2 separate regions of the Homo sapiens genome follow, and region 2 is linked to region 1. The links come from fine-mapping of genetic effects on gene expression. Tissue or cell type: monocytes after interferon gamma. Region 1 holds a variant in brackets; the other region holds the start of a gene. All regions are shown on one strand. Distances are from middle to middle.

Evidence for each region. PIP is the estimated chance that this variant, and not a neighbour inherited with it, causes the effect. A credible set is the group of variants that fine-mapping cannot tell apart.
Region 2: PAUPAR starts here. The variant in region 1 is the best candidate, but not a certain one, in a credible set for the expression of PAUPAR in monocytes after interferon gamma (Fairfax 2014, PIP 0.67).

The regions. Positions count from the first base shown.
Region 1 is chr11:32,555,594-32,558,357 of GRCh38, reverse strand. No RefSeq gene overlaps it. Among named protein-coding and RNA genes, the nearest start is that of EIF3M, 27 kb to the left of the region's middle. The variant C/T (reference allele first, on the strand shown) is at 1,206.
Region 2 is chr11:31,825,417-31,828,180 of GRCh38, reverse strand. PAUPAR (PAX6 upstream antisense RNA) reads right to left here and starts at 1,614. Exons shown (of 1, transcript NR_117094.1): 1 at 1-1,614. The region is part of intron 1 of PAX6-AS1 (PAX6 antisense RNA 1); the gene reads right to left. RefSeq lists an enhancer at 941-2,365.

The DNA of each region.
Region 1 (2,764 bases):
CGCTACTATTTAGAAAGAACTTGGACTGATGCTGAGTGCTGAGTGCTAATCTATCGTGTCTACCACTTGGAAATTGGAAGTTACATGGATCGGGATGGAACAAAGATTTCTTCCGAGCATATCTGTTTGGTCATAGCTAAAATCAAACCAGTTTGTTTACATTTATAAAACCACAGATTTAGCCTTGATGTTTATCCCTTAAATGAACTGCCTCCAACCACGCACACATAAAGTACAATACCAATAACAGTGCCCTCCTCTTTTAAAAATGTTGTATAAAGATGGGCCAAGTCTAAATTGGCTGAATTTATCTTGATATTTGAAGTGTCAAAAAGCATCTTATTTTTTCCAAAAAAAAAAAGGGGCATTATTTCCACTGCTACTTGCACAGCAAGCTTCAACGGTAATGACAGAGTGTCTCCCGAAGTTAAATGTGAGGCCTTAAATAACAGCTGATGAAAATACCTTCTGTTTAACACATGCAATCATATGTCATGCTTTTGGCACCATATAAGTTTGGTTAAATAGTGTTTATAATGTTACAAAATAAAAGAATCATTTTCTCAGGTTGTCCCAGTAAAATGCGGTTAAGTAGGCCATTACATAACAAATTATTATCTCATGTAACCATCGATAGTGTTAAAGGTAGGATTTTGTTTCTTTTTTTCCTTTTTTTTTTTTTTTTTTTTTTTGAGACAAAGCATTGCTCTGTCACCCAGACTGGAATGCAGCAGCACGATATCGGCTCACTGCAACCTCTGCCTCCCAGGATCAAGTGATTCTCCTGCCTCAGCCTCCCAAGTAGCTGGGATTACAGGCATGCGCCACCACACCCATCTAGTTGTGTGTGTGTGTGTGTGTGTGTGTGTTTGAGACAGAGTCTCGCTCTGTTGCCTAGGCTGGAGTGCAGTGGCACAATCTTGGCTCACTGCAACCTCCACCTCCCAGGTTCAAGTGATCCTCCTGCCTCAGCCCCTTGGTACCTGGGATTACAAGCACGTGCCATCATGCTTGGCTAATTTTTGTATTTTTAGTAGAGACAGGGTTTCGCCATGTTGGCCAGGCTGGTCTTGAACTCCTGACCTCAGGTGATCCACCTGCCTCAGCCTCCCAAAGTGCTGGGATTACAGGCATGAGCCACCTCTCCTGGCCTTTTGTGTGTTTTTAATAGAGACAGGGTTTCACCACATTGGCCAGGCTGGTCT[C/T]AGACTCCTGACCTCAAGTGATCCATCCGCCTTGGCCTGCCAAAGTGCTGGGATTACAGGTGTGAGCCACTGTGGCAGGCCAAGGTAAGACTGAATTTAAAGGAGTGGATTTAAAGGAGCTTCTCATCAGAAACTAAATGGGGTACCAAAACTGAGAGAAGGAATGGAGTTTAGAATCTTGTGAAATTCCAAAGCTCAAAAAGCCAGGAGATACGTGTGGGTGGATCTTCAAACAGAAGAGACAGTAGCATAACTAACATAACTGAAGTCAGGATGTGGAGCCGAGAATCTGAGACCACAGAGCGAAAGATGACACAAGTGATGAGACAATCTGGGACCCAGGAGGCTACTGCTGTTTGTGCCTTCTTTTCATGAAGAGTTAGGTCATGGTGCCTGGTGAGTTAAACAAAGGGCCAAGGTAGAAGGGACACCCTTGGACAACCAATGCTCCAATAAAATAATACATTTTTGATAAATATAGTGGAAAACTTACTGAGGTGATAGACATTTTTTAAGCCATGTGGATAGTATCCACCCAATAATAAGCAATTTAACACTCAAGATGCTAAGTTCAACGTCTAACTACAAACCAATGAAATTCAGAAGCCTTGTATGTTTAACAAAGTTGCAGAATAGATGACACCTATACCTTGTGATTTATAGCTAATTGGCTGGCTGGCTGGCTGGGAAACCTCCGTTTCCCAAAACGTTCCTCCCATTTACCATTCTACCACTAGAGATTTATTCCTCAGGTCAAGGTATCACCGCAAGCAGCCTCTTTTAATATGCATATAAACCACACTGAGGATTAACATGTTGGTTACGATAACAAAGGCCATTTATATAGAGCTGTGCAGTTTTCAAAGCATCATCATGTACGCGTTCTATATCACTTTTCTAACATCTATGGGGAGGGGTCAATGAGGAAATTGGAGCTTTGATAGGGATATGGGAGGACTAATTTGGAAGCTTGGGGCATGGTCAGAGGTGACAGCTTGGCTGGGGAGACACATCAAAGGGCTCCAGGCATCGCAAGGGTGGTCAGAGCCACCAGGGGTCTGAGAACACCAGAGAGGGAGCGCTGCAGACAAGAGCACACCCCCGATGACTTCACTACTTCACTACTTCAGTGTCTGTGCCCTCGACTCACAGTGAGCTGCTGCCCTATTTGCTGCGCTGCTGTATATGACTTTGATCTGCTCTCTCAGTGCCCTTAGCAGCACCATGGTCCCTTCTATTTTCAGAGGCAAATCCAGCATAGATTGATTTCCAGTGGTGAAAATGGGACAATGTTTTTGTGATGGAAGAGTGTAGTGGAGGCTATTATATTATGGCTACAACGCTAGTATTTGATGACTTAATTCATGAACTTTTCTTTGACAATTTATGCTTGGAGTTCGAAAGACTTTTTTGTGATCATCTCAGTATTTTAGTAGCAAATCATATTCTCTAAGTACTAGTTATTGGCAGGCATTCTTGTGGCCTTTTGGGAGTGAAGAGACCAATAAAAATGTATTTTTTAACACAAGGTGAGCCTTAATAATGGATAAAACCATTGA
Region 2 (2,764 bases), 730 kb after region 1:
TTGCATACTACCTGCACACGCTCCACAGCAGGGAGGGGCGTTAAGAAGAGGTAAGCCTGGAGCACAGTGAAATGTGACCTTGCCACAACCCCATCAAAGGTCTGTTTGATTGATTTTTCTTCCCTGCAAACGATCGGAAAGTAGCAGTGACAGAACAAGTCCTTAAAATTCGACAATCACTAGGGCATACTTCATTTCATCACACAAATAGGGAGTTGAAAGGTCGCCACTAGTTCTATGGGTTTCCTCAGCAAGACAGACTCTTTAACACCCAAGTTTTGAAAGTATGAACTACAGTATTCCACAGATGATTGTGCCTGGTGTTTAAAAGGCCCCTGCAGAGGTCTAGTCAAAATATTTACATTCCTCTCTGAAACTGTAATGCAAAGGAAAAGGGAAAAATCGTGAGAGGACAAATCAAAAGAAAAACTTTCCTTCCCCGGCAACAAGAAAAGGTGTCAGGCCGCTGGGTCTTCTGCAGACAGCCCTGTTCTCTTGGTGTAGATCAGGTGCCCATCACACACTTTTCCAACGGACGTACATCTATAGCAAGGTGCATTAGCTGCATTCCGTGTCAAAATTAGGGCTGTATCCATTTCTGAACACATGTGGTTAACAGAAAGCCTCATCATCCCGCCGTAAGTGGGTGTGTTTAATTGTCCATGCGTGTTCCCCGAGGCGCTCCATGGACGCTGCAAATAGATGGGTGAGTGATGGGCACATATATTTTCTCCATAAAGTGCAGCCACTGGCTCAAAGTGAGGCAGACTCTGGCAAGGAAGAGAGTTCGAGGCTGGGTGGCGGCGAGGATGGGATGGGGGTGGGGAGGAGGAGCAGGAGGGGGCGATGATTAGCGAAGGAAATGACCCAACTCCCTCCCTTCTGTTTTCACAATCTGCGTCACACTCCTGTACGCTCCCGGCCCGCGGCGGGCGAGCGGGCGGCCGCGAACGCCGGGTCAGGCCGGGCACCAGCCTGGCGGTCGCCTCCCAAGCTCCGGGTCCGCCAGCCGCTCGGCTGCCCGCTGTAGGCCCCCTAAAGAAGCCGAGGTGGGCACTCGGCCTGGCGCCTGGGGGCCGAGCCCACGACCAGCAGAACTTCTCCCAACCCAGCGCCTCTCGACGTGGGACCGGCTGGGCTCACTGGGCTCGGGGCTCCGGTCGGCGAGGAGGCGCCGGGAGCGGGGAGTGGAGACTCTTTGGTCTCCCGGGCTGTGGCGGTGCAACTCCCGCCGCCTGCGTTCTAGACAGAAAAGCCCCTTCTGACCATGCATTAGTAGTACTACTCCATTATTCCTGTTAGAACAAGTTAAAAGTAAGGGTTGAGCCCAAAGGCCCCAGGAGGGGGGTCATGTGCGCCCCAGTCACTCAGGCTCCCCTCGCTTCTCCGGTTCGAGTTATGCCATCAAGCTAATATATTGTGACTGCTCTTCTCTCCTGTGACAAAGGCTTGCAGCTGCCTCCAAATCAATAGATGTCAAAGAAATATGAAAACAATCATGACACAAAACTTAAATCCTGGCTGGAGCCTACATAATCAGAAATGTGCTACTGTTCTTCAAGCCACCGATTAATTTATCCCAAACTTTAGTCAAATTTTTATTCCGGTACCTTTTTCCCAGCAGATCCTGCTACGTCTGTCGGGTTTGTAATGTAATTTGTAATTACTGCCCTTCATGTGGTCCGGTGCCTTGAACCATCTTTAATTAAAAGCATAATTAAGGGAAGATCTAAAGAAAGACAATTACCAGATGGTCTTTTTTTTAGAGGCGGTAGTTGCGCAGAGAGGGGCTCGGGGTCTGTCCCCGGGACCCCACGCCTTGGGAGGGGGCGGCGGGCCCGAACGGCGCCTGCGCACTGAGGAGGCCTTGGCCTGGCTTGCACCCCGGGTCCCTCCCTCACCCCACCGGGCCACACCCCGCCACACCCCGCCCTGGCCCTGAGGCTCCACCGAGGCCGCGCCCAGAGGTGAGCGCCAGCGTCCCCGCCGTGCAAAGAGACTCTGGCTTTCTTCGCTTTTCCCCGGGGGGTAGCGGGATGTGGGGGTGAGTCCCCAGCAGGGAGGCTGGGAGAAGATCAAGGCCGAGGCAACTTTCAAATCTGCGAAGGGGCCCCCGATCCGGGCCCATCCCGCCCTGCACGCGAGCCTGAGAGCTCTGAAGCAGAAAGAAGGAAAGGATGCGAGGGCTGGAAGGGAGACGAAGGAATGAGAGAAGAGCGTTTGCCCCGCCAGATGACAGCCTTGGGAGGAGGCCCTGGCCTAGGTCCTCCCTGACTGGGACTGACTAGGGTGGGAGCTGGGGGATCCTAGCCCTGCGGGCCTGGGAACCCCTGGGACAAAAAGACAGCCGGGGAGCGCCGTCGACCGCAGCCCCGTCGGTCAAAGTGGCCCCTTGACAGCTATTCTCTCGGCTTTCGGTTCCTCGGTGTCCATTGGTCCCCGGGATTTTCAGAATAAGTTCGGGGGAGGGGAAGAAACCCACTCTCCACTCCTATCCCATCCCCACGTCCCCGAAATGAATAATGCAGGCAGGAGCCAAGATTTCTGCATTAGCGCCACGTTGCCCCGGCGGCTGGCGCTAGGATCCCGAAGTCGGATAATGGAAATTAAACTGTTGTTGTGTGGCGGGGATGTCATTATGTGACTGTTCATATTCAAAGTCAGGCAGCAATGAATTGTAATCATTTCAATTATCTTCAATACACTTTCTTTAGGACACAAGTTGTCAAGGATAAAAAAAAAAAGTACATTCTTGCGGCTCCGT